Regions from separate parts of the Homo sapiens genome. Here all the other regions are linked to region 5. The links come from fine-mapping of genetic effects on gene expression. A gene starts in region 5. Each other region holds a variant in brackets. All regions are shown on one strand. Distances are between the middles of the regions. Region 1 holds the start of LINC03001 (long intergenic non-protein coding RNA 3001). Region 2 overlaps BEND6 (BEN domain containing 6). Region 3 has its middle 4.7 kb from the start of ZNF451. Region 4 overlaps RAB23 (RAB23, member RAS oncogene family). Region 5 holds the start of RAB23 (RAB23, member RAS oncogene family).

What was found. PIP is the estimated chance that this variant, and not a neighbour inherited with it, causes the effect.
Region 1: its variant is fine-mapped to the expression of RAB23 in aorta (GTEx, PIP 0.99).
Region 2: its variant is fine-mapped to the expression of RAB23 in whole blood (TOPMed, PIP above 0.99).
Region 3: its variant is fine-mapped to the expression of RAB23 in lymphoblastoid cells after a statin (CAP, PIP 0.91).
Region 4: its variant is fine-mapped to the expression of RAB23 in blood mononuclear cells (TOPMed, PIP above 0.99).

What each region holds. Positions count from the first base shown.
Region 1 is chr6:57,259,256-57,264,363 of GRCh38, forward strand. LINC03001 (long intergenic non-protein coding RNA 3001) reads right to left here and starts at 4,091. Exons shown (of 3, transcript NR_109774.1): 1 at 4,048-4,091; 2 at 3,191-3,412; 3 at 1,269-2,462. It also overlaps a transcript of PRIM2 not described here. The variant G/A (reference allele first, on the strand shown) is at 2,845.
Region 2 is chr6:56,982,858-56,987,965 of GRCh38, forward strand. All of the region lies in intron 2 of BEND6 (BEN domain containing 6), which reads left to right. Among named protein-coding and RNA genes, the nearest start is that of BEND6, 30 kb to the left of the region's middle. The variant C/A (reference allele first, on the strand shown) is at 2,823.
Region 3 is chr6:57,082,931-57,088,038 of GRCh38, forward strand. No RefSeq gene overlaps it. Among named protein-coding and RNA genes, the nearest start is that of ZNF451, 4.7 kb to the right of the region's middle. The variant C/CT (reference allele first, on the strand shown) is at 3,018.
Region 4 is chr6:57,195,492-57,200,599 of GRCh38, forward strand. It overlaps RAB23 (RAB23, member RAS oncogene family), which reads right to left. Exons shown (of 7, transcript NM_016277.5): 4 at 959-1,115. Among named protein-coding and RNA genes, the nearest start is that of RAB23, 24 kb to the right of the region's middle. The variant T/C (reference allele first, on the strand shown) is at 3,071.
Region 5 is chr6:57,219,745-57,224,852 of GRCh38, forward strand. It overlaps RAB23 (RAB23, member RAS oncogene family), which reads right to left and starts at 2,563. Exons shown (of 7, transcript NM_016277.5): 1 at 1,982-2,563. It also overlaps a transcript of PRIM2 not described here. RefSeq lists a silencer at 1,917-2,266.

The sequences.
Region 1 (5,108 bases), 40 kb after region 5:
CTTTGAGTCATCTTGGGGGTTGGCTGATTTAAGCTGGGCTAGGCTAGGTGGCTGGGGTAGCTCTGCTCTATATGCCTCTCATCTTCCTCCTGGGACCAGTAGGTTGCCCTGGACATGTGTAAGAAGAAAATTGGAAATATGCAAGGTCTCTTAAGGCCTAGGCTTGGAACTGGCACACTAATTTCTGCCTCATCCTGTTCGTCAAGGCAAGTTACAAGGCTGAGACTAATGTCAAAGAGCAAAGAGACATACCTCATTTTTTTTTAAGAGATAAGGGTATGCCTGTTGATTAGGTTGTACTCAAATGCCTGGGCTCAAGGGATCATCCTGCATTGCTGGGACTACAAATGTGCACCACTGTGCCCAACTGAGATATACTTCACCTTTGTGGGGTGTAGTGGATGCTGAGGTGCACTTCCTGGTCCCTTTCCAGAACCAAGGCACTTACTTTCTCAGCTGCTAGGAATATTGCTTGCTGATGATGGCTCACCAAGTCCACTGACTCCCATCCTTTCACCTCCACCCTCGCCCTGGAGTCCCCATCCCACTGCCCACCAGGAATTGTCCTCAGCTGAAGGGCACTGCTTTGCCCAAGGGTGCCCCTATGGTCAACCCACATTCAAAGACTAGTCAGATGTGAGTATGAAGTCTGACCTCTTGCCTCAATTCAAGACATCTCTGAAGAGCTATCCTAGCATCAGAGCTTCCCATAGGATTGGGTGAGGCCTGGGTTGCAATTAAATTAGTCCCATTTTTTTCTGTGTCAATCTTGCTTCCCCTATTCCCTTAAAATGGCTGTTTCCAAGAGCATTCCTCAATAATTACTCTATGAAATCTAACCTTCAACATGAGAGGGACTCCAAAGCCAATGGTGAAGGGCAAAGATATAGTATAGGAAAGAATCAAAACCAATAACGCAATCTACCACATCTTTGCATTTAAGAAGTAGATTAAACTGCATCCCAGGTCCAAAAACAAAAGCATATAGTGGAGCAGACAGAATCTCTGTCTGACATGTCTTAATGTATATCTAAACCATTGATATTGGACCTTGAAATATATTTGACTTGGAAAAGGCATGTGGTCCTGAAGAGTTGTGGGCAAATGGAAACTTTGTAAATTGAATTAAATTCCAAATGCATGGTGGGGGTTTGGTATTCTAAAGTGAAAAATGTGGTGAATTATTTTATGAATAACCATTTTAATAACATTGATTTTTCTATGATGAGTTTTACATATCAGCAATTTATTTCATTTTTATGAACCCATTCTATTTTTAAAATAATTCTGTGTGTGTGAAATTATAGCATGATGTCATACGTTTGTTTTTTGGTCTCCAATCCTTGGTGGATTTCCTTTGCATAAATTTTAAGTTTACATGAACCTGAAAAGATTCCAGGGACTCTGGGCAAAGCCATGGGTGCATGGTTGTTGGAAATGGGTACAATGGATATAAGTAGCCGGGCAGACAAACATCCCAGGAGAAGAAATTTTGGCCAGGTCATGTTCCTTTGTCCAGTAAAAAAAGCAGGAGGAGAGAAAATAGATAATTTACTGTACTCAGGGATAGGGATTGATAAAATAGCTACAGCAGAAGGAAAAGTCAGCAGGAAAATCAAGAATTCTAACAGAATATTGCGGATATGACTGTTCATGATCTCCAGGGGTATGAAGGGCAAGCCAGGCTAAAAAGTGGACCAGAACACTGGTGGTTGAGGGATTGGAGGCCCCAGTGAGAGGAGGGAATAGGCACACAGCAGTGACAGATTCAATGGAAGTTTTTCCATATTTATGATATGCAAGCCATGTGTATTTTCATTTCCCTCATGCTTTTCTGTGAAGGTTGAGGCTCTCCCATGTGATAGTTTCCTCTATCAGTCAGGATTCTAAATATTCTTGATATTTTAAAGAAGAGATTTAATACCAGGAGATGACAAAGGTAAGAAGCCTAAAGTGGGAGAGTAAGGCATCCTTGAGATTATCAAGAGCAGGAAGCTGCTACCACTGCCTAAAGCTTAAGGGACAAAAGGAGCCAGGCCACCAGGGAGAAGTTGGAACCACAGAAGCTCTTGGAGCAAGAGCTGGGTCCATAGAAGAGATGGCCGCTGCCAGAGACAATACTTGAAGCTGAGAGAAGTGGGGAAAAATACCCAGCTTCTCCCTTTCTGCTCTCTCTTCAGGGCCATCCAATGGCTGAACTGACCCAGAAACCAGAGGGCAAAGGAACAAGGAAAAAGTAATTCTCTGTGATACGGAACAGGGTAGAGCGGGGACAGGGGATAAATCTAAGAGCAAAACAGGACAAGACTAGCACATGGCCTCAACTTCTCTGCTCTCCATGGCAATGTCTTCCTCCTCTTCTGTTTCCAGGAGTCTCTAATTCCTGCCACTTATTGCCCCAGGCTCCCTTGATAGCTGGTTTCCAGGTGGGGGCACAGCCAATGGGTGGCAGCAGCAGGAGACTGGGAGATAAAAGGAAAGGTTGGGTTATTTTTCCCCATTCCCTCCCTGCTTTGGAGCCACCTCTCTGGAAGGCTCCCTCCACCATTATAGATCCTGCTGGTGGTCTGTCTTCCGTGGCTCCAGGTCTCACCAGCTCTCACCAGGTCTCTCTCTAGGAGTGGTTTCCTTCTATTGCTGGTCTCTGGGTGTCTCAACATCCCTTGCTAATTCCCTTAATTCTGCCCACAGCTATGTCAGCAGTATCTTTGTTAAAGTCCCTTCATTTGAACAATTTGGCTTGAGTTCTGTTTTCTGCCAGAACCCTGGCTAGTATCCTGACCTACTGTGTTCTTTTCCAAGCTCCTTTCAAGTGTCATATTTTCCCCACTGTTGCCCAGATCA[G/A]CAGTGTGGTATAGTAGAAAGAATACTGGACTTACTGGCAGACAGACATGGTTTTATTTCTGATTCAGTCACTTACAGAGTTACTGGCTGGGAAAGTTATTTAACCTCCTGAGCTTCCGTTTTCTTGCTGGTAAAGTGGAAAGGGGATAATGATGAATTTCAGTTGGATATATTAGAAATCCGTGCCTGACCCATGTGTTCCAGGCCTCATCTGCCAGTTGTCTTTTTTTTTACATACCGATTATTTATGGCGTAAATCCCCTTCCTACTCGACTGAAAGAAATGAACCCCCTTCAAAGTATTTCCAGTTATTTCTAGAAGTTTCCAAAGAAGTTCCCTTGCTCACCAGTCGTTCTTTCACAGTTGCCATCGTCTTCTGCCCTGTTATTTTGCTTCTGCCCCAGCTCCCACATGTCCAGCTTCTGCTTGCAGGGCCACTTGCTGAGGCTTTGCCGAGGCTGAAACTTTTCCAGGGTCACTGTCCATCATGAGAACACAGCACATGCCAAGGGTGTTGCCTCTTAGTGTTCCCAAAGAGTCTGGTCCTTGGGAAGCCTCCATTTGGCCTCTGTGGTGCAGAGAGGAGAATGTCCTTCCCTGGCTCAGCCCCAAATAGCTGGGCTTGTGCCTAGAGCCTCTGAGAGTCTCTTTGACTATTTCCTCAGCTAATTTCACATGTAAACAAAACAACTCACAGAGGTTCTGCAACCTGCTTCCACCGTCTTTCTAGAAGGAGGTCAGAAAGGGAACAGATGCTTTGCCCTTTTCCCCTCTCCCCTCCACAGCTCTCCCAACCCCCAAACCCATCTTCCTCTTCTATTTGCTAAACTAAACATTTTATACTTATCAACCACTGTGGGATGGAAGTGGGATGGTCAAGGAGGGAGGTGAGGTCTAGATGACTTCTGTATATGAGCCAGAGTCCAATCCATTTATATATGAATGACTCCTAGTACAATATCTGACACAAAGTGGATTCTCAATGGTTGATGAATACTATTATCACGTAAATAGGAAACCACATTTCCTACCATTTAGATAGTATAAGTTCTTCAAAGTTCAATTTATGTGTCATTTCTTACCAGAAACCTGGCCCTAATCCCAGTAGGATGAGGTTACTCTTTGCCTCTGTATTTGCTTCTTAGGGCTATGGTTATAATATACCAAGAATTGGCTTAAAACAACAAAAATTTATTCTCTCACAGTTCTGGAGGCTGGAAGTTTGAAATCAAGACATTGATAGAGCCATCCTCTCTCTGAAGGCTGTAGGGAGAGTCCTTCCTTGCCCCTTCCCAGCTTCTGGTGGCTCTTGGCAATCCTTGGTGTTCCCTGGCTTAGAGCCGCTTCACTCAAATCTCTGCTTCTGATGTTGCACAGTCATCTTCTCCCTGTGTGTCTTTGTTTCCACGTGGCATTCTCTTCCCTTATAAGGCCATCAGTCACAGTGGATTGAGGCCCACTCTAGTAACCTCATTTAACTTGATTATATCTGCAAAGGCCCTGTTTCCAAATGAAGTCACATTCTGGGATCCTGAGAGTTGGGATTTCAAAATACCTTCTTGGGGGGTGCAATTCCACCCACAACACCCTGCAATAAGATTTTAAAATTGAATAGCAGCAATCTTATTTCTCTTTTGACATCTATCACATCTAGCTTATTTTATAGTAATCTATCTTTTATCTCCCCCTACAACACTGAACAGCCCAAGGACAAAACCTGTTTCTGATTCACTTTTGTGTCCCTGACAATACCTACATGTCCCATAATAGGTTTGATAGGTACTAAGTGACCGGGCTGAGGCTTGCACCCTCCCCTCCTGACTCATGATCAATCCTTCAGACTAGAGCGTGCTGCCACCAGCCTGGTACATGTATTTGTGAGTTCCTTGGGTTTCAACTCCTTGGTTGATTTATTTTTTGAAAACACTATATATCAGGAAGATGGGTTTGGCTAGCTGAAATAGCTGGTTATAGCTTGCCTTGGGTGGTTAAATATTTATGTCTTCTGAGAGTGAACAATGGGCTTTACTCTACCAGGGAAATAATCTTGTTTGTCCCCATTTATTGGCTCTTTTTTCCTCTTTTACATTTTCAGCATCCTAATGATGTCCTTAGTGATAGTTGCTATGGAAGTATTTTAGTGTTTTCTGCAGTGTTGGGTGGTGCAGTACCTGAAGCCCTCTTTAGTGTGTATTTATAATGACACCAAGCCATGAATTTCATTTTAGTGGTAGCTTTCTTGCTTAATAACTGGTTGTCGTCGG
Region 2 (5,108 bases), 240 kb before region 5:
TGGCACAAAACTAACCATATATATTGCTTTATACTTTTCTTTTTTACTTAATATATTTTGAAGGTATTTCCATTATTATACAGAGAGCTTTGTATTTTTTACAGCTCCATGTTATTGCACTGTGTGTATTCACCATCCTTTATTTAACTGGTTTCCTATGATAAATATCAGTTGTTTCTAATCCTTTTCTTACTATTTAATACAAACCACACAACACTGTACCACCTTATGTGTACATCATTTGATAGTACAGTGGTATTAAAATATAGACCTTAATCTGTTTCTGATTTTCAATCAGCACTGTTTTTTTAAAATAAATTTTATTGTGTATATTTCAGGTATATAACATCACGTTATAGGAAACATATAGATAGTAAGAAGGTTACTATAGTGAAGCAAATTAACATATCCATCACTCACAGTTACCCATTTTTAAAATTTTTGTTGCAAGAGCAGATAAAATCTACACATGTTGCATGAATCCCAAACACAAAACAATTTTATTACCTATGGTCCTCGTGTGCTACGTTAGATCTCTAAACCTCTTTGTTCTGTGTATCTGCTACTTCATATCCTCTGACTTACATCTCCTCATTTTCTCTCCTCTAAGCCCCATCTGCCCTAGTAACCACTGTTTTGTTCTGTATCTCTGAATATTTGAAAGTTTTTTTTAGATTCCAGATGTAAGTGAGATCATGCAATAATTTTCTTTCTGCGTCTGGTTTACTTCACCTAACATAACATCCTCCAGCCTCATCTACATTGTGGCAAATAGCAAGATCTTGTTCTTTTTTAGGGCTCAATGATATTCCATTTATAAATATATTAATTCTACTGTTTTTTAATCCATCCATTCATTTATGGACACTTTGCTTGTTTCCACACAATTAGCACTGTTTTTAATACCTATCTATATTGCTATATATACATCTGATCCATTGCTTCTAGCTGCTGCATAGCACCGTGTTTTATTTATCCTTTCCTCAGTGATGAATACCTAGATTGCCTCCAGCATCTTGCTACCACAAACAATGACAAAGTAAATATCCTTATACATGTCCTTTTAAGAAACTTTGTGAGGCCAGATGCAGTGGCTTACACCTATAATCCCAGCACTTTGGAAGGCTGAGGCAGGAGGATCACTTGAGCCCAGGAGTTTGTGACCAGCCTGGGCAACACAGGGAGACCCTCTCTCTACCAAAAAAAATTTAAAATTAATCGGGTGCAACTGCTTACACCTGTAGTCCTAGCTACTTGGGAGGTTGAGGTGGGAGGATCGCTTCAGTCTAGGAGTTTCAGGCTGCAGTGAGCTGTGTTCCCATCACTGCACTTCAGACTGGGTGACAGAGCCAGACCTTGTCTCAACAACAAAAAAAAAAGCAAAGAAAAAAGAAAAAAAAACTGTGTGACAATTTATCTGGGAAAAATACATAGGAGGGTGATTTATACCTTGTAAGTTATATGTTTATTTCTAGTTCATTTGACTAGATATTATAAAATTACTTTTCGAGAGTGTTCACATCAGTGTACGTGCCCAGCATCAGTGTTTAAGAGGTTCCCATATTTGTACTTCCCTACAACCGTTAGCATTAATATCCAAATTTCTAGTTTTTGCAAATTGATGGGAGAAAATGATATCTCATTGTTTTAATCTGCTGATGCAGGTTTAGGGAAACTCAAGGATTGCTTAAGAGGTAAAAACAGTCACATGCTCTTGTAGGCCGGTATTGTGGCTTCTTTAGCAAGAACTTAATAGCTTTCTAAACCACAATTTCTTTTTTGTTCCATTGAAATTCACTATAGCCAGAGATTTTATTTGATCATGGATTGTAAGCATGAAAACTGTTCTCTTCAATTACGGCATCTGTGTTCAGCCTCTTTTCTCTCCAATTTATGACAGTTATCTAAACAATATACAAAACAAAAAGCTTGAAGGAAACACCCTGCATCTGAAGCTTACCACTGGGCTGGATCCCATTATCTGTCAAGAACACTTAAAGAAAAGCTCTCGAGAAAGCCTTGAGGATACAGTCTTACCTTCTGCTATTTAGATATAAAAGTAATTGGCTTTTTCAAAACTTGAAGATTGAATATTACTGGACTCTCAGTTAATTTAAATTGCATGCTGCACTCAGAGAGCCTTCCATGTCTGCTTGCACACTGACCAGCACTGACAAGGAGTAGCTGATACATACCAGCATTGTTTTTCCAAGCTCAATAAGTTTGTGGTCTGCCTTCAAAGGTATTCCAGGTGACTGTTGTACCAAATATGCCCCAAGGTCTAACAAGAATCAATGGCTATCCAGCATGCCATGCCTGTGCGCTACCACCTGACCTCTCAGTAATTCAATTATATTTCAGGTTTTAGGTATTCGTACTTCTGGGTACTCAATTTTGGACTAGTTATGATATAAGTTGCAAAGGCTGTAAAATAGACTCAAGTAACACAATAATGGCTTATACAGGATGAAGTTTATTTCCCTCTTACCTAATAGTAAGAGCAGTTTAGGGGTGCTATGGCAGCTCCACATGTTGAGTGTCCCTCTTACCTTGTTGATCTACCTTCCTCAACACACAGCCTCTATCTCTAGGTCTAAGATGACTGCCCTCCCCTCACTCTCCCATCATGCCTTCCCATCTGCTAATAGAAGAAGGAGAATACAGGCAGAAGAAGGCATGCTTGTTCTTTTAAGGTTATCAACAAGTCAGTGGTCCAAAATACTCCTGCTCATATCCTATTGGAGGGAACTTAGTCATATAGTCACACTGAGCCACGTGGGAGTCAGGGAAATGAAGCCTTTAGCTGACAACTATGAGCCCAG[C/A]TAAAACCTTTATTGTACTATACAAGAATGGTAGAATAGACACCTGGAGATAGCTAGCAGTCTCTGCACTGTCCATTTTTCTATTAGGTTTTTGTTTTCTGTTCGTTTTCTTGGTTATTCTGATGGATTTCCTGTTCTGTCAATTCTTATTGATTTGCACTAATACCTTATCTATTGTAGAAATTAGTCTCTTATGGTTTGAGATATTACAAATATATTCTCCCAATCTAATATGTGTCTGTTAACTTCATTTCCTTCCACTGATGCTTACAAATGGATTTCTTTTGCCTGATGTCCTTTCCCTCTTGTAGCAACTTGCTAAAACTTGCTAACAAGAACTAGACCATAGATACTAATTACTACTAACAGAATTATGGTATCAATAGGCTATCTTCAGTTTTTAAAAATTTCTTATTTCTATTTAATCAATACATAATTTTTTCTTTAAGATTTATACATTTAACGTGGGTATAGCTATCTGCCTACTTCTGATATTAGTAATTTTCATCACTAGAAGATGTATTACATATGTATATATATACAAACACATATATAACAATGAAATATACAAACATATACATATATCTGTACATTTATAAAATAAAGGTGAGGGCCAGGTATGGTGACTCGCACCTATAAACCCAGCTACTCGGGAGGCTAAGGCGGGAGGACTGCTTGAGCCCAGGAGTTCGAGGCTGCAGTGAGCTAAAATTGTGTCACTGCACTCCAGCCCGGGCAAAAGAGCAAGACCTGTTTCCAGAAAATAATAATAATAATAAATAAATAAACAAAATAAAATAAAGGTTGAATGTAAATGCTGCAAATCATATAAAAATGTAGTTGTGTTTTCTATAACTGATCTCATCTGGCTTTCAAGTCTCTATGCTTGATTGATAAGACAATAAAAAGCTTAAACTTGTTTATTCATTTTCTAGTGTAAAACAGTCTTTTTGAGTTATTATTATTTAAGTCACTTCAGGATTTAAGCCTCAATGAATTCTAAATTCTTCCCCTCCTCCACCTTCTTTTCTTGGGAAGTGAACCAAGTTTTTCGAAGTCTTGCACTCAGCCTCTGGGGAAAGATATCTGATCTTTTACTGAGGTTTTAACTTCCCTGCCTTGTTTCAGGGTGTCCCTTGGTGTTACTGTTGAGCCAATCCTTACAGGTCCATTGGGGATTCTATTGGTAGCTGCTGCTGAAATTTGCCATCCTGGCACACACTGCCATCTTCTATAATGTTCTGGCACCTTGTGGCCTCTCTGTCTAGATATTAAGCTGTTTGTGTTTCTTTTCTTTTTTTTTTTTTTTTTTTTGAGACAGACTCTTGCTGTATCACCCAGGCTGGAGTGCAGTGGCACAATCTCTGCTCACTTCAACCTCCACCTCCTGGGTTTTCAAACAATTCTCGTGCCTCAGCCTCCCAAGTAGCTGGGATTACAGGCATGAGCCACCACGCCTGGCTAATTTTTTTGTATTTTTAGTAGAGACGAGGTTTCACCATATTGGCCAGGCTGGTCTTGAACTCCTGACCTCAACTGATCTGCCCACCTCCGCCTCCCAAAGTACTGGGATTACAGTCGTGAGCCACTGTGCCCAGCCAGCTGTTTATATTTCATTAGTTCCTCCAGAACTTACCTATTCCCTAACTAGGATACAAGCACATTTGGATTCTCCAGCTGTTTTGCATGAGCTCTGGGAAATCTGGATGTTGTCTCTGACCCATTTATCTGGACACCAATTTGGCCATTTCCAATCTGTGGCCCGGAGAGACACCATGTTGCCCTGATGCTGAACATGAGGACTCTTTAGGGAAGAATGCACTAAGCAAGGAGCCAGCCTGCTGTTCTGGGATTGCCCCCATTTATCTGTATGTCTCTATCATATACCCCCACCTGGAGATTCATCCCCTTTCCCCCTAAAGGGCAGGGGCAAGAAGAGCAAAGACATTTAAATCAGATTTCATGCTAATCAAGTTCTTATTGCCCAGGCTCCTCCTCCATGCACCAGAATGTCTTTTCTTTTACTGGGCAGTAGAGGCTTTCTTTATGTTATACCTTTGCTTCTTCTACTCTCAGGTTAATTCTTTAAAATTTTAAACAACAAACTTCTAGGTTTGTATCCTTATAAATTCCACTCTGTACTCCAATTTTCCAGATTTGGATATATATATACATATATATATGCCAGTTTGGTAGTTTCAGAAAATCCTTTTGTCTCAACACAGCTTGAATGTTACAACTTATAAGCATATGTTTTCAAATAATTGTCTTGCTATTGCCCTTTAA
Region 3 (5,108 bases), 140 kb before region 5:
ACTGAGGTCCTCTTGTCTTGCCTCTCCTGGTAAGGCATGGAACCATCACCTTTCCAGATTGAGCAAGGGTGCTAAGGGGCCCAGTATTCTCAATGTGATGAGTTCAAGGTAGAGCCTCTGTCCCAATGGAAGAGGAGAGCCCCTGCCTCTCAACTGCACTAGCCCAGTGCTTAGCTTCAACAATAGGTAGCTGAGGACAGGATGAGAAACAGTGATGTCTTGCTCTTTACAGGAAGGGGGCCCTCCAAGTGGAAGTTGAGGAAGGGGGATAAGTTGGAGAGGGAGCCTGTGTTCTTGATTATAGCAGTCTGGAGTGAAGTCTGTCTTGCTGAGCTGGGAAGGGGGTGGGAGCAAGTGGTCTTGGTTTATATACCACAGATGCTTTCCTTTCTTACAGAATTTTCAGATTTCCTTTGATATATGTTTCTTCATTTGCTGTTGGCCCTTAGGACTGTCTCCATAGGCTTTAAGTGATTTTTAAAAATATTTTTTATCAGTTTCATATGAGAGCAGGCCAGTGGAGCTCCTCATACTGTCAAGCCAGAAGTACTATTCTTTCTTTTTGGAGACACAGTCATGCTCTGTTGCCCAGGCTGGAGTGCAGTGGCACGATCTCGGCTCACTGCAACCTCCACCTCCCGGGTTCAAGCATTTCTCCTGTCTCAGCCTCCCGAGTAGCTGGGATTACAGGCGTGAGCCACCATGCCCAGCCAGAAGTACTATTATTTCTTATAACTACATATGAATCTAAAATTATCACAAAAGGAAACTTCTTTTAAGAAAAAGAAAAGAATCAGAACATAAATATACAGCATGGCAAAACTACATCTAAAACAAGTATTATAGGTCTCATGGTGGAAAAATTGGACCCACAAGAAAAGTTGTTAATTATCTCTGATATTCTGAACCATTGATATCTGCAAAATGATTACTAGGTATGTGCAATGAAGGCTATTGATGTTACCCTGTATATCTGCACACTGTGTACAAATGCTGTTAAATGATGTAATAAAAAATTAAAAAGGAAATTAATGAATTCATATTTAATAAATTTTAAAAATGGAGAAGGTAAGACTTTCTTACAGAAAAATGCCAGTTGAAATCATTGAGAAAACTAGTATCGGACAATTACCACTTGCAGCCATCATAGTAAAAACTGATAACAGGCAAAAATCATCACATGATATATTGAAGGGAAAAGTTTCATGAGGAACATGATGTTTGCATGGCCTGAAAGTATATCCTCACAGATTGCTTACTAGTTGTAAGGGGAAAAATAGCAACTACATAGTGGTCATACTAGATGACACCTTGACCAGTTGGCTATAATTAATATCCTCAATGAGGGGCAGAGAGCCATCATGTGTCTCTACATGTAATAATCAAAAACACTTATAATGTCACTGATAGTATTTTGTCTGGTCTAACCTGCGTCTAATCATGAAGAAACATCTGACAAACCAAAATTAAGGAACATATTATAAAATAAGTGGCCTCGGTTCTTCAAAAACATCAATATCATAAAGACAATGGCTGAAAAACAATTCTAAATTAAAGAATAAAGGGACATAACATCTGAATGCATTATGTGATCCTAGACTGGATATTGAATTTGGACAATTGACAAAATGTGATAAGGACTGTAGATTTTTAAAAAAGTATTTTATCGTGGCCGGGCGCGGTGGCTCACGCCTGTAATCCCAGCACTTTGGGAGTCCGAGGCGGGCGGATCATGAGGTCAGGAGTTTGAGACCAGCCTGGCCAAAATAGTGAAACCCCATCTCTGCTAAAAATACAAAAAATTAGGTGGGCGTGGTGGCGGACGCCGGTAATCCCAGCTACTCGGGGCTGAGGCAGGAGAACCGCTTGAACCTGGGAGGCAGAGGTTGCAGTGAGCCAAGATCATGCCATTGCACTCTAGCCTGGGCAACAGTGCGAGACTCCGTCTCAAAAAAAAAAAAAAGTATTTTATCAACATTAACTTCCAGATTTTGATAATGGTACTATTAATGTCAAAGAAAATTCTGGTTCTTAGGAAATATATACTGAAATATTAAGGGATAAGGAGGCATGATACATGCAACCTACTTGCCAATGATTCAGAAAAAATAATATGTAAACATATGTCTCAGACAGAGAATATGGTAAAACAAATATTATTCTTTCAATTTTTCTATAGGTGTGAAATCATACCGAGATGTCTTGCTTCTGCTTAGGATTTTTCACTCTCCTTTAGCTTGTAGGAAGTAACAAATGTTAGTTATACCTGTCTTAAATTCCTCCTCAGTTGCTCTTAAATAAATCAATTTTGACAATGATTTTAACATGTAGATTATTGTAAAAGAGGTTAGACGATATAACCTTCTAATAAGATTGTTACAATTATACCTACCTACCGCACTACAGACCAATTCCTTTAATGAATACAATCTGGTTCTAATATTTTTGGTTGTCTGTGGTGTTTTCAAACCCCTTTTTAATCACCACAAGTGATTGAACCATCAGTAGTTTTGTTCAGTGGCCTGACATGGAATAATACTATTAATATGATCCAAATACACTGAACTGAACGGTGATTCTCCAAATCTTTCTAGAAAGAAAATAGGATGTGTAGGAAATTACTCACAATGTTTAGTAATAACACCAAAAACTACTGTCATCAGTGTACTCATAAGGCAAATGCATTTTGCTTGAAAGGGAGAATGTCCATATTCTAAATAAATTATGATAGCTTCCTCTAAATGAGTCAAGCAGCTTGTGCTTATGAGCCAGTGACAGAAATGAGCCACCGTCTTTTGTCCTGTGCTGCAACAGGCTGCTTTTTCTTATGGGCTAGTCCTTTATACTTTTTCAGAATCAAATGCTCTTTATTTTGCTCCCATAACTCCAGGCAATGACTATGACACCAGGTTGCTAAGAGCCATTTTCTTCCCTGAAGAATATTCTATTTTAAAATGCCTACAAATCTATTTCCTACTTCATCAGAAATTGTTAATGAGAATATTCCAGTTCCACAT[C/CT]TTTTTTTTTTGAGAGGGAGTCTCGCTCTGTCGCTCAGGCTGGAGTGCAGCGGCACGATCTCGGCTCACTGCAAGCTTCGCCTCCCAGGTTCATGCCATTCTCCCGCCTCAGCCTCTCTCTACAGGCCTCAGCCTCACTACAGGCCTCAGCCTCTCAGTACAGGCACCTGCCATCACGCCCGGCTAATTCCTTGTTTTTGTATTTTTAGTAGAGACGGGGTTTCACCGTGTTAGCCAGGATGGTCTCAATCTCCTGACCTTGTGATCTGCCCACGGTGGCCTCCCTAAGTGCTGGGATTACAGGCATGAACCACTGCACCCGGCCCAGTTCCACATCTTAAAACCAGAGCATTTAATCCAAACTAAATATAGTTCTTAATAATAGAATTGCATTGGAAGTATCTGTGCTTTACTAAACCTTAATAAAATTTTGTGCTGTGTATACATGAACTCTTCTGTCCATGTTGAATGTTCCTTAAATAAATTAGAGGCTCACGGTAGTCAGGATGAAAATATCAACACTGATACTTTCCCTTTTTTGAAATTTATGAGTATCAGATAATGTTTCTAAACAGGGCTTCCAAACTGATGCATTTAATTTGCCTCTTGGTGGCACACCCTTGGCCAAGAACACAGTCTCTAGAGTCTTAAATGCTGTTAGCAGCCAATGTTCAGATAGATGGTTCTATAAATTACCATTCAATACAAGCAGTAAGACAGTCGATGGAGATCTGATGAAAAATTTTAGTTTTGAAAACAAAACTAGACTTCTTTGATACATAATGATAATGAGTTGAAGGAAGAATATCAACATAATGTCACTGATACAGATCTAGAAATCTATTATGATGTCATTTGGGAAAAAGTCTAAAAGTATTAAATTTAGGGGGGTTGTCAACGCAATGATGGGCCCTCTTCAAGATCTTAACTTATAAGGCAAAATAATGGATTCACAGCTCAGGTAAAACAACAGCAAAAAAATTCCTCAATCACACAAAGAACATTTCCCCATAGTTTAAATTCTCCATTTTGAACCTTGAACCAGTCAGTAAACAATGCTGCTTCTTCCAATTCTAACCAGTTCCTCACTTCCCAAGATTGGCTGAAAATCACCCAACCCAATTCCTTCTTAACTTTCTAAGACTGGGAGATTCCTAAATTTTGCCTATGGCTTTTCTTCTCTTTGGCTACACCAAGCTAAATAAACCTGTCTTTTGGGGACTACAAGCATGTCTCAAATCTCTTGGTGGGCTTCAAAGGATTTTCTTTTTTTCTTTTTTTTTGAGACAGAGTCTCGCTCTGTTGCCTAGGTTGGAGTGCAGTGGCGCAGTCTCAGCTCACTTCAACTGCCTCCCAGGTTCATGCCATTCTCCTGCCTCAGCCTCCCAAGTAGCTGGGACTACAGGCACCCGCCACCACGCCCGGCTAATTCTTTGTATTTTTAGTAGAGACGGGGTTTCACCGTGTTAGCCAGGATGGTCTCAGTCTCCTGACATGGTGATCCGCCCACCTTGGCCTCCCAGAGTGCTGCAATTACAGGCATGAGCCACCACGCCCGGCCCAGGATTTTCTTTTTATTTTCTTTTTTTGAGACAGGGTCTTGCTTTGTTACCCAGGTTGTAGTGCGGTGGTGAGATTAGGTTCACTGAAGCCTTGACCTCTTGGGCTCAAGTGATCCTCCCACTCCAGCCTCCTGAGCAGTTGGGACCACACACATGTACCACCACACCTGGCTAATTTTAAATTTTTTTGCAGAGACAGGGTCTCACTATGTTACCTAGGCTGGTCTTGAACCCCTGGGCTCAAGCATTCCTCCTGCCTCCCAAAGTGCTGGGATTATAAGTGTGAACCACCACCCCCAGCCTGGATTTTCTTGTAAACACATAGTCCAGCTGCCCAGAAAAAAAATAAATTACTATTCCTGTTTAAGTAGGTTTTCTCTTTCAGGGATGCTTTTCTTGATGGCTTGACATGTGATATGGTTTGGATTTGTGTCCTCACCCAAATTCCATGTGGAATTGTAATCCCCAATATTGGGGGAGGGGCCTGGTGGGAGGTGATTGGATCATGGGGGCGGATTTCCCCCTTGCT
Region 4 (5,108 bases), 24 kb before region 5:
GTCTCCTCCCACACTGTAATCAAGGTTGGTCTGGGTGTCCACTAATATGCAATACAAGGGACAGTATAAGACTGGGTCATAAGAAACACTGTGGCTTCTGTCTTGCTCTTTCTTGGATCACCCACTCTGGGAGAAATAGCTGCCGTGTTGTGAGAATAGGAGAGGCCCATCTGACAAGGAACTAAGGCTTCCTGCCAAGTGAATAAGCCATCATAGAAATGGATGGTCCAGCACCAGTGTAGCCTTTCCGTGAGAACAGGCCTAGCCAACATCTCAACTGCAGCTTCATGAAAAACCACCAGCTAAGCCATTCTCAAACTCCTGATCTACAGAAACTGTGATATAATAGATGTTTGTTGTTTTAAGACACTAAGTTTTGGGCTAATTTGTTACATAGCAACAGATAACTAACATAAGAAGACTTAAAAAACAGGTAAAAACCAAGCAAATATTTTCAAAACTGGCAAAAATAATAATACAATAAGTAAATATTTATGAACAGAAATTATCTGTTCACAAATTTGAGCATAAGAGTTCTGAATATACAAAACAATATGAATCTGAACCCTTAATTAAAATTCATCAACATAGGATAGTTACTTATTCTGGGTATTACAAAATCTAGGGATGCTTTTCTTAACATTCTTACCATATTAAGGTTTGACTTAACATGAAGAATTAGATTTCTTGTGCAAAGACCTGAGATTAGAATTCTAAAAGAGCCTTCAAATTTTAATCCTTTAATTTTATCTACTTAGGAATCAATGAATTTTTTAACCCAAACCAATCACATAGAATAGCTCACAGAAATTTTAGGTAAATTAAAATATTTAAGTCATTAAAGCCTTCAAAATGAAAGTATAGAATTTTTCCTAGAACCTGTAAAACTATGCAAAAATTAAGATGTCTTAACTTTATAGAATTACTGTCCCTCCTTCCCCAAAAGTAGCCATCTTACTTCTTTATACAAGAATCATCCAGAAGATCAATCTTGTTTTGCACAAGTACAGTTGGTATATCTCCCACTTCGGCTACTACTTTCTCTCTCCAACTGGAAACTGCTTCAAAAGATTCCCTATCTGTGGTAGAGAACACGAGCACACAAGCCTGGGCTCCTGTAAGTTCACAATCAATCAATCAATCAATCAAGGTATTTACATTAACATATTACATTTACATTAAGAAAACAATCTCATGAAGAATGGGGGCAACTTTTATCCATTCAAAACAACTTTTATGTAAATAAATGTTGAACTCATCTTTGTACTACTCTTCTTTACTTTTCAACATATAAACTCTATTTATGTTGAATTCATCTTTGCACTACTCTTCTTTACTTTTCAACATATAAATTCTATTTTCATTTTTACCAAAAACAGTGGTTCTCAAATGTGTTCAACTGTCAAAGTACCTCAAAAGCATACACATTCTTTTTGGAATACCATAAAATACTGATTTAATTCCATTATAAAAGCTAGAGAGAATGGTAAACTAAAATTACAGGCTGTTGCCAAATTCTTCTTGTTAATTTGCTTCTTAATTTCTTTCAGCGTAGATTTAAGAAAAATGTCATTTGCTTAATTTCTTTCAGCGCAGATTTAAGAAAAATTTATGAGAAAAAAATCATAATTTGTTCATTCTATTCACTTTTTAAATAAATTGTATTATTTTATTTCAGTAGAATACCAGTGATCCTAAGGAACATAATTTGAAAGCCAATGCCAAGAGTATATATATATATAATAGAGGGGTTGGGGGAAACTTAGTTTTACCCTGTTTAACTGCATAATTTTACCCACCCATATTGTATCCATTGACAATATTTTAACCATCAACTGTCATTTTAGGCTGATAATATCAAAGACTAAAATAAGCAGAAACCTCTTAGAAGAAGCAGTTTTATAAATTATTAGCTATTGATTCAGGTAGCATGGTGATAAAAGCAGGCATGTAAGCAACAAGAGAAAATCATCCTGGGGGTCAAGAGGATTTCCTGAAATCAAGGCATGTTTTCTTACCATTACTCCTTCCTTACACATCCCTCTGGTATAAGAGTTTTCTACTAAGACTCAAGATATGTCTGGGCTATCTAAGACACTCTAGAGCCAAAACTAGTCTGTATATCTATATATCACTGGGGGAATACTGTAGAAAGCAAAAGACCACAGAAAGAAAACAGCAGTTTGCTATTACTGTAAAAACAGAAGGTTCATTTGGAAAATCTTCCCTACCCTAAAAACAGGTTTTTTGTTTTCTGGTTTTCTTGAGACAAGGTCTCACTCTGTTGCCCAAACTGGAGTGCAGTGGCATGATCATGGCTCGCTGCAGCCTCGACCTCCTGGACTCAATCAATCCTCCCACCTCAGCCTCCTGAGTAACTGGGACTTACAGGAGGAGCCTGCCATCATGCACAGCTAATTCTTTGTTTTTTTGTTTTGTTTTGTTTTGTTTTTGTTTGTTTGTTTTGTAGAGATGGGTCTCCCAATGTTGCCCAGGCTGGTCTCAAACTCCTGGGCTCCAGCAATCTGCCTGCCTCAGCCTCCCAAAGTGCTGGGATTACAGGTGTGAGTGACTGTGCCTGGCCTAAAAACAGGTTTTAATCCAAATAATAAATGAATAATGCAAAATACAGAAAGAGAGAGACAAAGACACCCTGAGACCTTCTCAGAATTTAAGGGAAAATAAAACTGAAGAGATCACATTAGTATACCGATAAATAAACTTATATTTACTTGAGCTGTAATATTTACCTCAACTACAAATAAAAAAAATTATGTAATCATATTTTAAGAAACTGTGGATCATGAGGTCAGGAGATCGAGACCATCCTGGCTAACACGGTGAAACCCCGTCTCTACTAAAAATACAAAAAATTAGCTGGGTGTGGTGGCGGGTGCCTGTAGTCCCAGCTACTTGGGAGGCTGAGGCAGGAGAATGGCATGAACCCGGGAGGTGGAGCTTGCAGTGAGCCGAGATCGCGCCACTGCAAGACCAGCCTGGGCAACATGGCAAAACCCCATCTCTACAAAAAATACAAAAATCAGCCAGGCGTGGTGGCACACACCTGTAG[T/C]CCCAGCTACTCAGGTGACTGAGGTGGGAGGATTGCTTGAGCCTGGAAGGTTGAGGCTGCAGTGAGCTGTGATTGTGCCACCGCACTCCAGCATGGGCAAAAGGGTGAGACTCTGTCTAAAAAAAAAAAAAAAATTTGTTCTTTATCATAAAACTCAATGAATTACCTTTAAGCCTACAGCTTTATGTCCAGCTGTCATTTAAATTTGAGGGCACAATAGGGTATTTCCAAGTGTTCAAGGTCTCAGACACTTAACCAAAAAAACCTCTTAGAGGAAGCATATATGATGGAAAAAAAACCCCAAACAGATAATGCCAGAGATACGGGCAGTAAGAATGATTAAGAAAAGCTCAACATTATTTAAAAAATCAAAGACCAAAAGAAAGTATGTCCATAACAACCCCAAGATTATTTAGCAGGGGACAGAATGGGTACAGACCAGAGAAATGTGGGAATGTGCCAAAGTGCTTGTGTGAAGAAAGGGAAGATGTTTACATAATCAGGGAGGTAAATAAACAAACCCTGCAGCAGAGGCCTGTGGCTGCATGCATGTCCCCTCAACCGGGCTTCAGCGCAGCTGTGGAGAACAGTTCCTGTGCCAGTTGCTCCTGCCTATGCTGCAGGGGGCTCTGCTGTTCTGCTGGGGGCTGTTCTGATGCATCCCCCAAGGGGGAAGTGATGCCTCTGGGTGGCGGGGGGGTGGAATGAACACCTCAGCCTCCCTTTGGTGGGCTCCTGAGGCCTCTCTTCATGGTTCCTCAGGGAGACTGAGCCCCAGTGGCCCACAGTGATACTTAGAACGCTTTACTGGTTTTTCTCCCTTCCTTGCCTCATTCTCCCTAGTCTTTCACTCTACTTCCTGGGATCATGTCCCAAATAAACGAGCCCCACCCATGTGGCGCAGTGGGAAGGCACACAGAGGCTTAAACTAAGACAGTAAATGCCTTAAGTTAAAGGCAATCACCTTAAGAATAAGAGAATGTATGACTATTAAACCACAGGAGAAAAATGGATTTCTGCAGTATAAAGAACAAAATGAAAAAACAAGAACTGCAGGAAATAAAAAATCTGAAATAAGATCGCAAAAATAAGTCCTAAGAAGATAAATTACAATCTATAGAAAGAATGGTACACAAATCTCCAAAGCAGGACGGTTCACCTGATACCAAGCCTTTATATCAAATGCTGCACCACCTTGTCTGATTTAACCTAAAAATATTACTAAAATGGAAAAAAAATCAACTGGATTACTTTTTATGGATTACTTTTATGGTTATAATAATTCTGACAAATGTTGGACAACCACTTGTTTCCATTTCCCCTAACTGAATATCATCTTCCATCTAGACAGATAAAATACTTTGTCAAACTGTGATTCATCATGGTTCTTTTATGTTTGGAAAAATCCTAATGACCGGAAAGCCCTTTCTAATATTTAGTTTAAAAAGCTCAAAAGATGACCCCTTACCCTCCACCCTTTTTTAAAAAAAAACTTTGACTGAGGTACCAATAAAGCATGTAACAAATACAAGATTCCAAGATTTATGAGACAGATCATTATTTGCAGAATTTAGAAAGCAAATGGCTGATCCTGCTGCACAACTCTGAACTCCCTCAAGCACTTCAAGAATTTTTTTTTTTTTTTTTAATATGAGATGGGGGTTGGAAAGGAAAAGGATCTGTAAAGAATGTCTTGGCCGGGTGCGGTGGCTCATGCCTGTAATCCCAGCACTTTGGGAGGCTGAGGTGGGCGGATCACGAGGTCAGGAGTTCAAAACAAGCCTGGCCAACATAGTGAAACCTTGTCTCTACTAAAAATACAAAAATTAGCTGGGTGTGGTGGTGGGCACCTGTAGTCCCAGCTACTTGGGAGGCTGAGGCAGGAGAATCACTTGAACCCTGGAGGAGGAGGTTGCAATGAGCTGAGACCATGCCATCGCACTCCAGCTTGGGTGACAGAGTGAGACTCTGTCTCAAAAAAAAAAAAAAAAAAAAAAGAATTTTTTTAGAGGAAGTACTGTACTCCAAACCCTTTCTC
Region 5 (5,108 bases):
AACTGGACATCCATATGCAAAAAAGTAAACCTTCACACCTTATACAATTAACTCAAATGGATCACAGATCTAAATGGAACACTTTTATAAAACAATTTTTAGAAGGAGAAAATCTTGACCTGTTAGGCAGAGTTTTTAGACATGACACCAGATGACCCATAAAAGGAAAAACTGATACTGGACTTCACCAAAATTAAAAACATTGCTGTCTGAAAGACACTGTTAGAATGAAGAGAAAGACAGACTGGAAGAAAATACCTGAAAAACACGTATCTAACATATAATTTGTATCCAAAACATATAAAGAGCCTTCAAAACTCAACATAAGAAAACAGCCCAATTTAAAAATGGGCAAGAGACTTTGCCAGATACCTCACCAACGACTCCATGTGGCAAATGAACACATGAAAACATGTACATCTTTAGCCATTAGTTAAAGGCACATTAAAACCACAAGGAGATACCACTACACACCTATTAGAATGGCTAAATTTAAAAAAACTGACACTATCAAATGCTGGGAGTATGTGGAGCAACTAGAACTCTCACATGTTGCTTGTGGGAATGCAAAATGACACAGATACTCCAGAAAACAGTTTAACAGTTTTTTAAAAGTTAAACATACATTTACCATATGACCCTGCAATCCACTCCTAGCAATACCCTAGAGAAATGAAAACATGTCCATGCAAAAACCTGTACATGGTATTTATAGCAGATTGATTCATAATCACAGAAAACTGAAAACAACCTCAATGTCCTTCCATGGGCAGATGTTGAAACAGACTGTGGCATATCCACATAATAAAATAGTACTCAGCAATAAAAAAAGAAATTATCCATACATGAAACAACTTGGAGAAATCTTAAAGGCATTATGCTGAGTGAAAAAAAGCTAACATCGAAAGATTACTAACTGTTATGATTTCATTTCTAGAAAAGATTAGTAATTGCCAGGGGTAAGGAGTATGATATAATGGGATCACATTAGGTTTTTTTTCTGTGGCGGGGGAGCGATAGATTTGTTCTACATCCTTACTGTAGTGGTGGTTACATGAGTCTAAAATTCGCAGAACTGTACATCGAAAAAAAATCAATTTTACCATACACTTTTTAAAATAATAAATTAATTTCCTTAAAATAAATTTAAAGAAAAAAGCCAAATTAAATTTTAACAGGCAGTCGGACTCTTGCTTTTCAGAAACTATAGACTTAAAGCACTAGATCAAAACAATTACGTTCCTAGAAATAAGCATACTTCTGAGTACAATTAAAAACCTCGACAATAATACTTTATATAAATACCCTTTCCCCAAAACTTTTAACATTTTGCTAATGCGGTCTAATAAATTAGAGAAGCAAAGGGTGAGTTAACTCACTAATCAAAAGGTTGTTTTCTCATAACAGCCTTTATTTAAGTAGAAGTACAGGTTATATTTGTAAAAATACTGAAAAACTTCTTAGGGTCAATGAAATTACCTAGATGTTAGGAGATACATAAAAACCTAGAGAAGTTAACAGCCCTTTTCAGACCCTACTGCCACTTCACTAGCTCCTGATAATGAAGTTCTTACTCTCACACGCTCTCAGGTTCTTACTCCTGGGAACTGCCGATGGCTCCTCGGATCTCCGAGTAAAGTTAATTCTGTAGCAACCAGTGTCAATGGAACAGCACAATTTGGCTCATTCATATTCCAGCACTCTATGAACAAGAAACTAGGGAAGGGTGGGGTCGCGGGTAAAGAGTGGTCGCACTGCAGGGAGGAGTCTAAATGCCAGGGTGGAGCTGAGGACTCTCTTCGCCATCAAACCTAACCTGAGCACTTCACGCCCTTACTGGTGTCTGGCCCAGCCCGGGTCGCCCCTTCCCCAGTCGGGACTTGGGGCAGGCAAAAAGCCGAACGTTCGGCCAGACTGGGGACGCAGCGCCGCCCTCGCTCCACCCCTCTTTCCCGCCCACCAGGCAATTCCAGGTACCCACCGCTGGGAGCTGGGAGGGGGCGCCGGGCTGGCGCTGCCGCCCACCTTCTCTAGCTGGAACTTGGGATCGGTGCTCAGGGAGGGGAGAGCCGGCGCTCGGCGGTCCGAACCGGGGGATGGGGGAGCCGGGCCGGGAGGCCCCTGCCCTCGATACCCCTGCCCACTCCGGAGAGTAAGGCACAACCCGGGACCCCGGGGAGAAGCTGAGTCTTCCCCAGTGGAGCCGGACGAACCCCCAGCCCCTGGAGAGGGCGAGTGAGTGCAGCGCCGCTGCACCGCAGCGCGAGCCGCTACTCACCGTCCCCCACCGGCCGCGGACCCGCCGCCCGGCGCCACCGGCTCCTCCTGGTCGCGGCGCAACCGCTGCCGCCGCTGTCTCCTCCCGACGCGCCAGCTCTCCCTGCGGGGCCGAGCGGCTAGTTCGCACCCTCTTTCGCTCTCTTAAGAATGATTATGATTTTTAAACGAACTTTATTAGTAGCCAGGGCTCAGATTGAGTGGCTCAGCAGCAGCTCCGCCGGGGGTGGTGGGGCGCGGGAGTCTCGACTCCCCTCATCTGTGGACCCGCCGCGCTGCGGAGCATGCGCCGTGCTTCGTCTGCGCATGCTCTGTGCGGACCCGCGGCCCTGCCCCGCCCCTGTTCTGGCGGGTGGCTGGCGGCGGCTCAGCTTTCCAGGCGCCTCCAAGGGAGCCCGGGAGGGCAGTGGGGAGATCAGAGACGAGCAGGATCTCCTAGATCGTGAACTCTAGAAAAGAGAAATCGGCCAATGACGGTCCGCATGAGTTTCGCCTACAGAGTTATCACACTTCCAGTGTCCTCAAAGGGCTTGCCCCGCTTCGGACACCTACCTTATTTTCTTGACCAGATGACATCTTAAGTGGCCAAGTGAGCAAAAAAATGTCGAGCAAAGTCGAAAACGCACTCACACAGCCTGCAGGACAAAATAGAAGCCTGAGATGGTTAATTATTCAGAGAAGCGAACCAAAAACGAAAAGGTTCCGCAAAAGCAATCTCAACTTTGCTTCAGTTGTTTTTATATTTCAAAATAAAATAGAATAGAAAAAAAAGATGGAAAATACCAAGTGTTGGCCAGGATGTAGAGTAACTGCATTCTTCTACTTTGCTGCTGGAATGTAAACTGGAACAACTCCTTTGAAAAACAGTTTGGGACTGTCTGCAAAAGGTGCATACCCTATGGCCCCGCAGTTCCACGCCTGCATATAGAGCAAAGAGAAACGAATACTTAGGGTGCACGGACAGGCAGGTATCAGAATGTTCGTAGCTGCATTTATTGTAATAATTCCTTAATGAGAATAACCCAAAAGACCATCAACAATAGAATAAATTAATGAAATTACACAGAGTTCATATAATGAAACACTATACAGCAACGCAAAAAAGCATCTGCAATTACAGGCAATAACGTGAATCAACTGGGGAAACCTAATGCCCAGCATAAAAAGACAACAAAAGTACACATGGCATAAGTCCATTTCTATAAACTACAAAAACAGAAGAACTAAGAGGCTCAAAGTTAGCATAATGGTTACCTTGGTGGGCAGGGGATAGTGACTGGAAGGAGTTAGCGACTAGAAGAGGGGCTTCCAGTTAGCAACTGGAAGAGGGGCTTCCTTCTAGTGAGGTTCTCTCCGTTGATTTTGGCGCTAGTTATAAATGCGTGTCCATTTGTGAAAATTCAAGCTGTACTCTTATGCACATTTTTCTGTATGTGAATTATAATTCACACTTAATAATTTTAAAAATTAGTGGAGATTATTTTACCTATAATAGCAATAGTATTTGTAAGAAATTTAATATCAAGTAGCTAACAGATTTATCTCTAGGATTTGGTTGGCAGTATCTCTTAAACTTGAGTAACGTACTGATGCCCTTTCTGAGAAAAGAAAAAAAACAATTAAAAAGTTGGCAAATGACTTGAATAGACATTTCTCCAAAGAAGGTATACAAATGGCCGATGAGCACATGAAAAGAGACTCAAGGTCACTAATCATGAGGGAAATGCAACTCAAAACCATGAGATACAACTTCACACTCATTAAAATGATGATTATAAACAAAGCAGAACAGAAAATAAATATGAGTGTTGGCAAGGATGTGGAAAAATTATAACCTTTGTGTGCTGCTGGTGGGAATGTAAAATGGTACGGCCACTATGGAAAATTGTATGGTTCATCAGAACATTAAAAATAGAATTATCGTATGATTAAATAATTCCACTTCTGAGTATATATTCAAAAGAATTGAAAACAGGGACTCAAAAAAAAATTTGTACAACCATGTTTATAGCAGCATTATTCACAATAGCCAAAGGGTGGAAGCAACCCAAATGTCCATCAATGGATGAATGGATGAACAAAATGTAGTATATACATGCAATAAAATATTATTCAGCCTTAAAAAAGGAGGGACCCAGGTGTGGCGAGGTATCCCTGTAATCCCAGCTACTTAGGAGGCTGAGATGGGAGGATCACTTGAATCCAGGAGTTCAAGACCAGCCTGGGCAAATCCTGTCTCAAAAATAAAAGAGAGAGAGGGAAATTCTGACACATGTTATAGCATGGATGAAGCTTGAAGACATTATGCCTAGTCGCAAAAGGACAAATGCTGTATGATTCAACTTATATAAGGTACATAGAGTAGTCAAATTCATAGAGACAGTTGGGGGGTGGGAAGTGGTTGTGGGAAAGGAAGGGCAGGTGGGAATGGGGAGTTACTGTTTTATGTCTACAGTTCTAGCTTTGCAAGATGAAGAAAGTCTGGAGATAGATGGTGGTGATGGTTGCACAACGATGTGAATAAACTTGATGCTCTTGAACTTTATACTTAAAAATGGCTAAAAATGGTAAATTTTATGTTTTATGTATATCTTGCCAAATTTCTTTTTAATGGGAAAAAAAAAAAAGAAAATCTTAGAGGGTCTCAGGGAGTACTTCTGGGATCCAAATTTGAGAAAAACTTCCTGAAAGGGGGTTCCCCCAAAATCATTTCTTTCCTCCCCACTTTTCCATTTCCTTGGGATTGTTGGACATTGAAGGAGATCCAGAATATGCCACCCCAAAACATGCCACTTTGACACAAGCATTATTTGGAGTTGAAGGCAATTAAG